Regions from separate parts of the Homo sapiens genome. Here region 1 is linked to region 2. Evidence: fine-mapped expression QTL. A gene starts in region 2. The other region holds a variant in brackets. All regions are shown on one strand. Distances are between the middles of the regions. Region 1 overlaps NREP (neuronal regeneration related protein). Region 2 holds the start of NREP (neuronal regeneration related protein).

Region 1 (4,396 bases), 27 kb after region 2:
TTGTTGTGTATGTTTCATGGAGGTAGAAGATTAGTACTGAGACTGAGATTTAAATAGAGAGATACACTAACGTTCTGTATATTCACTTTTGAACAGAGTAAGTCTGAACTGGAGCAGTTTTAAGGCAAGCTGTGTAAAGACTATAATTGTTGAGTTAACATTTATCAACTTTTGGTTTTCCTTCTTTTCTTGCCTGTGACAATTAACAGCCATTGAACTCTTCATTTGTCCAAAACCTAAGTTTGTCCTATCCTGAACCATGGTAACTGGTTGACTGTGGGGTGAGGTGGGGTCGGGCTGGCAGCATTATTTTAAAGACACTGGGATTACAGTGGATTTCCTTTTTTTTTTTTTTTTTTTAAATTTTGGGACTGTGTACCAAGATTCCAAGATTGAAATTATTTTCACAACTGCAAGTAACTACCCAATATTATGCTTTTGGAAATTGAATCTAGACCCTTAAGGGTGTGTGAGTGGTGAATTATATTTTTATTTAATTTTCTGGTTTGGTCCCATTGGTATTTAATGATACCAAAACAACCTCTAAAATCACAACCTAAGATTGGAATATTAAAGTACATCATGGTTATATATGTGCAAAAAATGCTGTATGCTCTCAAAGTCCGAGACTTTTAAGTAAAAAATTGAGGCATACCAGATGTTTAATATGGAAAATCTGTACAGTAAGTAAGACTTTTTAAAGTTGAATAATCTGTTGCATTTAGTTCACCCCTGGGTTGCTGAAAATATTTATTCAATTTCAAGTTGTTTGGAAGTTACTGGTTTCTGAATTCTTAAAAAGAAATTCAGATGTGTTAATTTATAGGCCACAAAGTAAGATTATCACTTTAATCCAAGTACTTTACATCTAGTCAAACTGGCTTATTAAAACTGTCTTGTTAGAACATGTGACTTGAGCAACAAAAAAAAAAGCCCACATGTTTTAAAACCACAAAGGATAATTTCTTCCAAGAAAATGTCAGTAATTAAAACTCCAGAGTTCAGCTGAAAGAGAGACCATCGTCAAATCTTCACTGTGTTCATACCTGTACAGGGCATAAAATCTATCTGTTGTAAATGAATACCTGTATTGTGCATCATGTGGGCAGGTGTGCTTCACTGTGCTGTGCTTCTGCTGTCTGGTTGTGATGGAGAGCTCCTCTCCACTGTTGGCGCTGCAGCAGTGTGTCCGGGAAGCCACGTGGCGGCGGATCAGTAGTCACACTGAGATTGAGTTATTCTAGTCAGAAACACAAAAACCTTTCTCATCAGGATTGTGAGGAGAGCCTTAGAATAGCCCCAGTCAGTCTAGATGAGCTGAATCTCACTCTCTTCTGGCCTTGGTTTCCCCACTAGCCCCCACTTTCCTATGACCGCTGTCTGGGCACCCTCACATCATTTCTCTCCCAGACAGACACTTCCCATCTTTGGTAGCCACTTCTGTCATGCGCCGATTGCACATAGAATAAGCCATACATAGATAAGATTGATGCAAGTTGAGATACGTTTTTAAATATTTTTATTACATATTAGAAAATAGATTGTTAACCCGTCTTCATCACACCCACTGGACTCTTTTTTTTTTTTTTTATAATTATCAACTGACACTCCTGTGAGTATCTATCAATCACCCAGTCTAAGGTTGGGCCCTATCTGATACTAGAAACTGTCCCAAGAAACCTGACACTGGGGAATGCTGCCTCACACATGGCTGGCACCACCGTAACAGAAGCACTTCATTCTACTGAAGCAAAGGTGGCCAGTGTTTAATTACTTCATTTCCTCACAGACCTAATATTTACATTCAGGTGAACTGTGTTTAATATGTAAACTCTGTTTTGCAAAACAGCAAGAGTTCAAGGGTATAATGTGGGCTGGGCAGGAAAAGCAAAATTTTAAAAAATGGTTTCAGAAGCATGACTAATTTTGTCTTTTATGTGTGTCTGTCTGTGTGTGGGTCTGCCTGCTTTGCAGGGAAGACTTCCTGTCCCAAAGGAAGTGAACCGCAAGAAGAACGATGAGACAAACGCTGCCTCCCTGACTCCACTGGGCAGCAGTGAACTCCGCTCCCCAAGAATCAGTTACCTCCACTTTTTTTAATCGTAACACCTCCATTTGTATTACATATGGTGTATGGGTATTGATGAGGTCATGGTATCATATATGGGATTTTTTTCTGTGTAAATCATCAAGTATAAGAAGAAACTATGGGACTCTGAGCCTTGCTTTAGAGAATTTACAGTGGACAAATAGGTGTCATCAAACCAGTTTTTAATCATTCTGACTCAAGTGAAAACGCTCAGAATTTCACACTGTGAATCCACGTTTACAACCCTTACAGGTGGGCCTTCAGGCCTGGTTCGCTACAACAATGTCTTCCACAACTCAAACTCCCACCGCGCTCACACAACCGGTCCACTCCTGCCTTTTCACTCACACAGCTCCCGACTGCTTCTTGCAGAGGCTGAGAGTCCCCCCCCC[A/CCA]CCTTTTTTTTCATTTAGATGTAACAAACCTAGTAGTTTATGTTCATCAATTGTCTGTATATCTCTATATTTTATCCATGTACTCTTTTGATGTATAGAAGTAGTTTGAAACTCATTGTTTCCTTGTGGTAAGTGACCGAGATGCTGCCACAGGACCTGAGACACTGATGAATGGTGCTATTTTGGACTTTCAACATGCTCCTTGGCGAGGTAGCTCTGATGGAGTTATTTTTTATTTCCATGTTCTAAGAAGGTGTTGGTACTCTGTTTCCCTGAATGTTGTTCTCTAGACTGGATTGACTTGTTTTCCTTGTGTCTTCAGTGTGGCTTTCTTCCTCAGTGTTGTAGGTTGAGCGAATGCTACCAGAGTGTGAGAGACCATTGTCTCGTTGGCTGGCGCTCACGGACATGCAGTCACGGTAGCGGGAGCAATCACAAAACTGTAATTTACTTACCAAATCTCTTCCTTTCCGTAGCCTCGCCTGCCTGACTTAGAGAAAGAAAAGCAATAATTTTACAGGCATTTTGAGGTGTCTCTTTGGGTTCTTTCTGTTTGAAAGGATATTTGTCGAAAAAAAGAGCAAAACCGTTTTAAATAAACTCCCCCTGGAAAAAAACCCAAAACACTGGCATCTGAGTGGGAATATGAAAATGACACCTTTTCCAAATATTAAATTGGAAAACAAGGTCTACAAAATCATGATACTTTTTTAAAAGGCAGAGCATTCTTTTTTCGGCAATTTTGATAAGCAAGGTGTAGATTTACATTTTTGTCCTTGCTCCCAACGAAATGGATAAACAAAAATAAATTACCATCTACTCATGGAATGTTGTTGTGTTAGCCAGTCTGAAAGCCCACCTTAATTTTTATATAACTGTCTTTAGCTCTTCTTTTGACAGGGCAGGCCTTGTTCTGAACTGTTTCGCTTCTGACTGTTAAACACCGATGACGCATGCACTGCACTTCTTCGTTTTCTTCTTGCTCCCCCATTGGCCTGAGTTTCTTGTGCATTACTCCTCTCCCTCCTTCGTTAGAATAGGTATATCAGCTGTGTAAATAGAGCAAGAAAACAGTATTCTGCATCTGTGGCATTTATGTAGAGTTGCAGTTGTGTACTGCTGAAAATGCAGGCTTTTGTAACAGTGTGATCTTTACTGATGCACTCATGACAAGTACCCAATGTATTTTAGCTATTTTAGTAGTATTTGTTCAATAAATACGCAAGCTGTAAGGTAACTGTCTGATTTGGCTCATCATTGAAGAGGCCTAGTTTTGAATGTCTTCTCTGGTTCTTGCTAATTCATGTGTTTCCAGAGCCCCAGAAGTCAGGCCAGCAAACCCAAGGGCAAATATCAAAAGAGAGAGAATCAGCTCTGCCTTTCATGCGTTTTCCCTTTTGAGGATTTTATGAGATTAGGGGCTAGGCAGTGGCTCATTAAGATGGTATTTGCAGAGCTGCCTCTGGACACAAAGCAGAATTAGACCAAGATCCTTTTATTTCTACACTTTTTCTCCCTTCCAAGGCATTCCCATACGCTTCAAAACTTACTCTTTCTCACTCCTTGCCATTAAGACCCACTCTGTGGTATTCTTTAAGACCCACTCTGTGGTATTCTTTCTTTTTCCCTGCCAAAAGAGATCTGACCTCCCTTCTTCATGGAATATGTGCACTTTTCCTCAGACAAAAAGCTTAAACTTTTGTAAGAGGATAAAAATTTGAGACAGAATTTAAAGTCATTAAGGCTTAATTCATGTGTACCCAGATACCTGGAACCTACCAGATGATAAGGTGATGATGAGCAGAGCCTTCTAGAGGTCTCATGTGACCCTGAAACCTGGCAATTCAGGGGATTCATGCACTCCCTGTGCATGAGAAATGTCTTCTGGTTTCTCCTCATCCATTACGGGAGTGAA
Region 2 (4,396 bases):
TTTCTGGAACACAACAGATAAATAAGCTATGAATCTGACCCAGTGTTCTTAATACTTAAAAATCTGTCACCTGAATGTCTATCATTACAATGAAGAAAAATTGGCCAAGAGAGGTGGCTTGTGCCTGTAATCCCAGCACTTTGGGAGGCCGTAGTGAGGATTGCCTGAATCCAGGAGTTTGAGACCGGGCAACATGGTAACATGGTAAGTCTCCATTTCTTAAAAAAAAAAAAAGAAAGAAAGAAAGAAAGAAAAATTAACACTTCTCTGTGAAAGAACATCTTAGGGAAGTTTTACATAAACGTTAAAGTCCCTGTGTATGTATGTGTTTATATGTATGTTTCCTTGTAGAAGCAGCTTTTGAACAAATATCACTGGGATAGATTTTTGGTAGTCTGATTTGATGGTGCGCCCTTGGGGTCCTTTCCCAGCCTGACCCTGAGGTGAATGCCAAAGATCTCAATGTTGAGGTGCCCTTGAGCAGCGTGTTGGGGTTCCAGACTTGCAGATCAGCCCCCAGGCGTCTCCCCTCTCCCACCACCCAGCCTATGCCTTACACCTTCCTTCCAGTACTTCCCTGGCTGGTAAACTGGCCTGAAAGGGTCAAGGGAATTTGTTGAGTTTTATATTTCTTCCCTTTGTTCCTAGCTATGGCTGCCAAATCATCTTATTTTTGCAGGAAAATTACTGTGATGTTTTAGATTAATTCAGAGAAGCTTTCAGTGGGCTCCTTAAACATCATACCCAGTGCAGTCTAACAGGCATTTGTTGTGGCAATGGCTTTGTAGTTTTAAAGGTGACCTATAGTCCCAGCAACAAGCATACAGAGAACTCAGTGCATTCTTTTAGAATTGTGAGTGTAAAGTATTGCTTTTTAAGGTTTGCTATTGCTGTACCCAGTATGTTAAATCTAAAACATCAGACATTCTGTAAACACGTTTAAAAATTGAGTTTTGTAAATTTGCCTTATTTTCTTTGTTACAATGGAAAACATTGCTTTCAGTGATTAGGGGAAAAAGTGGATGGCAAATTTAGAAGACACTATGATCCTTTATATCTTTTTTTCTTGGAAAGGCAATTTAATTAGGAAATAATCTTCTCCTGTGACATCTGAGAGTTACCATAAAATGATATCCTGCTTTATTGGCAACAGAACCAGTTTATTTGAGTTTGTTGCAAAATTTTGAGCTATTACATTACTATGAAAAGATAGATTTTAAATAAGAACGACGAGTTTACAAAAATCAGAAATGGCAAAGCACTTTATTTTTTAAAGCAATCCTCGATTTTAAAAAGTACAATTTCAGACGGGCAGGCAGTGGGGGAGCGTATAGGGAAGGAGAAGGAAGCACCAGGGGAGTATGTCTTGGGCCGATCACGCCAGGCCGCAGCTCTGGCTGGTTGTGCGCGTGTGACTGTGTGCACGTGTGTGTGTGCACGCGCAGCCACAGGACCTCTGGGCCCGGCCTTCAGGGGCGCTCCCCGCCCCGGGCTTCCCCGCGGAAGGGAGTGGGGCGCGCGTACCCAGCTGAGGGGCAGGGTCCGACCCGAGGCCGTGTGCAAATGCATCCTTCGCGGACTCTTTGTGTGTCTGAGCGCGGCTCCGCGCCGCCGCAGGCACCATTTTCTGCTTCGCTCAGGACAGGCACATAAAAGGAAGGCGGCTGCCGCCCGTCGCCGTCCTCTTTTCCTCAGATGCCCTCTGCTGCAGGTTTATTATTACAGTACGGGCCGCGCCGCCTCTCCCCACGGCCCTGGCGGGCCGCCGGGCTGTGCAGCACCCTGGCCGCCTTCACGCTTGGCGCGCCCCCAAACCGCCTCCTCCACCTCCTTATTTGTCTGAAAAGCAACCGCACGTCGAGGCGGAGAGGCTGGCCGGGGGCGGGGAGGAAGGCCGGGGATTTGCGCGCGCCGTGCTCCCGGGGCGGGGCCGGGGCGCAGAGCTGCGGGTCCGCTTTGTCTCCCCGGGGCGCCGCGCGGTGCAGTGGGGACGGCGCGGCGAGCGGGGCGCCCGGGGCGCGGGTGCGGGGTGTCGGGGCGCGCGCGCCTGTTGGCCGCTCGCCGACGGGGCCCAGAGCCGCCGATTCCTGCCGAGTAAGCAGTCTGGCTCCTAGGCGGCTGCACAGTGGCAGCAAGGCTGGGGCGCTGGCTCCGCGCCAGCTCCATCAGAATTAGCTCATTGTTCACTAGCACCCTAGCGGGAGAGAGAGGGAAAGGGAGAGAGAGAGACTCTTAGAGAAAGAGAGAGACACACACACTCTTGGAGAGAGAGCGCGAGGCAGGGAGATGATCTCCTCCTCCTTTTTCCAAGGCTGCACTTCTTGGAAGTGAAGCCGGTTTGGGTTTTGTTTCCCTTCCCCCTCCTCCCTCCTCTTCCTCCACCCCTTTCCCCTCCCCCTCCCTCCCCCAATCCCCCCTCCCCCCCCAATCTGTCTTTCTAGCATGTTGCCCTTTTTCAACCACATTTGTGTTTCAGGTGTAGAGAGGAGAGAGAGTGAACAGGGAGCGGGGCTTTTGTCTGTAAGTATATGCCATTCCTATCCCCGGCTGGGAGCGCTGGTTTCTCTTTTGTGTCGATTCCTTGCCGTTGCTCTTAGCTGGACCCTTCAACCCTGCAGAGTTCATGCTTCTTCCCTCTAAATTTTAAAGAGCTGAAGCGTGTACCTTGGAGAAATTCTGGCATTTTGGTTGTGCTGCATTCAGGCTGGAATTTAACTTGGGTTTTTTCTAAAATGCACAAGTTCGGAGGGAGAAATGAATTCTTTTGGGAAGGGGTGGGGTTTTGTGCTTGTTGGTGTGGTTAATTTTGTTCTTCTTGCTCCTAAAGCCTTGTTAGAAACTGTTGTGTTTCTTTGCATTAAATGCACTTTGGTGCATGCAAGCTTTTCCTCCCTTTTTATAAAATGAATTTGTGTCCCTCCGCCCTTACACTTGATTACTCTTTCAATGCTGCTGCTTCCGAGGGTCTTCTTAGGCATTCGATCTTGCAGCACTTTTTTCTGCATTTTCTTATAAAGCAGTTGAACTTTGGCGGGGAGGGCCTTAAAAATAAATGACTGTTTTTTTCTTGGTGATTATAATAATCTGATGTGCATTTATGTGTATCTATAATAACATTATAGGAAAACTCTAAGAGCGAATGATACCCTTTTTGAGAACTTTTAGTTTCTCCATTCATCTTAATTTTTGTCATAACTGTGTTAACAAAAGAGCGGTCTTCTGATAATATAAAGGTTGAGGGTAAATCACTGCAGCAGTATGTACATTAATGTTTATTTGGTTTAGGGAGAAGGACAGAATGGTGTATATTCCTGACTCCCCCCACCCCCCCCGCCGTGTAGGGTTTTTTTTTTTTTTTTAAACACGGAAGGTTATGTAATGCAGTGCCATTTCCAAAAATATCCACTCTGAGGCATTACACTACACGGTGGAAGGCTGATTCCTATTCTGTCGTCTTGATTGCAAATATACTGCCAGTAGTATGTCTGGGAACAAAGAGCAGCCAGAAAACAATCTATTTTTATCACTTGGTTCTACTTTTAAGTTGCTAAACCTTTTGAACTCATGCAATTTAAAGATGAACCAAACACTAAGAATAGCCCAGGACTCTGCAAAGCCAAGTACCAGGGATTCCTTTGTCCCTTAGTTAAGCCTATAGGCCACTTGGAAAGCTCTTTCAGAAATCCCAGTAGTTAACAATAATTTGCATGTAACTTATCTTAACCACAGAAAATGGTTATTCGTCTGTAACCTCTAAAGAGGCATTTTTCGTTTGCTGACCTGTGGTGAGGCGATGTGTCTACTGTATTTAAACATATTTTGCAGGTTGGTCTCCCTGGACTGAAGAGAGGGAGAATAGAAGCCCAAGACTAAGATTCTCAAAATGGTAAGACTTGGTCATCAGAGGAGATTCTCAGTACTTCTTACCAGTCTGTTACATATAAATATCAACCACCCATCTTCATCCGCCTCAACCCTTCATTGTTCTACACCCCATCTGACCTTTAAAAGGTTCTATCTCCAGTTCCTGGGAGCGTTGCAGTACAGCAATTTATGTGAATTGGATGTGGCAAATTAGTTCTTTGACTTGCAATTATTTTGAATAGAAAACTAAAATTCCTCTTTCAGAAGTGAGGATTTATTTAATTTGAACAACAGAAACTATTCGGTTCTTTAAGAAGAGTGATGTGTTGTGACACGCATGGAGGTGGTGACAGCAGTAGGGCTCAAACAAAGCCTTGGGTCTTAGAGCTAGGCCGAAGTTACCCAAAACTGAGGAGTCTGTCCAGCTGATCAAACAGCTACTGTATATGCTATCCTTTAAAGCAATATAGATGAAAAGCATGAATTTTTATATTAATGTGCCCCATCTATTTAAATATAATTACTGTTATTT

Evidence for each region. PIP is the estimated chance that this variant, and not a neighbour inherited with it, causes the effect.
Region 1: its variant is the best candidate, but not a certain one, in a credible set for the expression of NREP in whole blood (INTERVAL, PIP 0.88).

What each region holds. Positions count from the first base shown.
Region 1 is chr5:111,728,625-111,733,020 of GRCh38, reverse strand. It overlaps NREP (neuronal regeneration related protein), which reads left to right. Exons shown (of 4, transcript NM_004772.4): 4 at 1,975-3,718. The coding sequence ends at 2,100. It overlaps STARD4-AS1 (STARD4 antisense RNA 1), which reads right to left. Exons shown (of 7, transcript NR_040093.1): 4 at 4,261-4,396; 5 at 3,341-3,530; 6 at 1-1,240. Among named protein-coding and RNA genes, the nearest start is that of NREP, 26 kb to the left of the region's middle. The variant A/CCA (reference allele first, on the strand shown) is at 2,482.
Region 2 is chr5:111,755,260-111,759,655 of GRCh38, reverse strand. NREP (neuronal regeneration related protein) reads left to right here and starts at 2,462. Exons shown (of 4, transcript NM_004772.4): 1 at 2,462-2,520; 2 at 3,826-3,886. The coding sequence starts at 3,884. RefSeq lists silencers at 1,332-1,691, 1,712-2,111 and an enhancer at 2,705-3,262.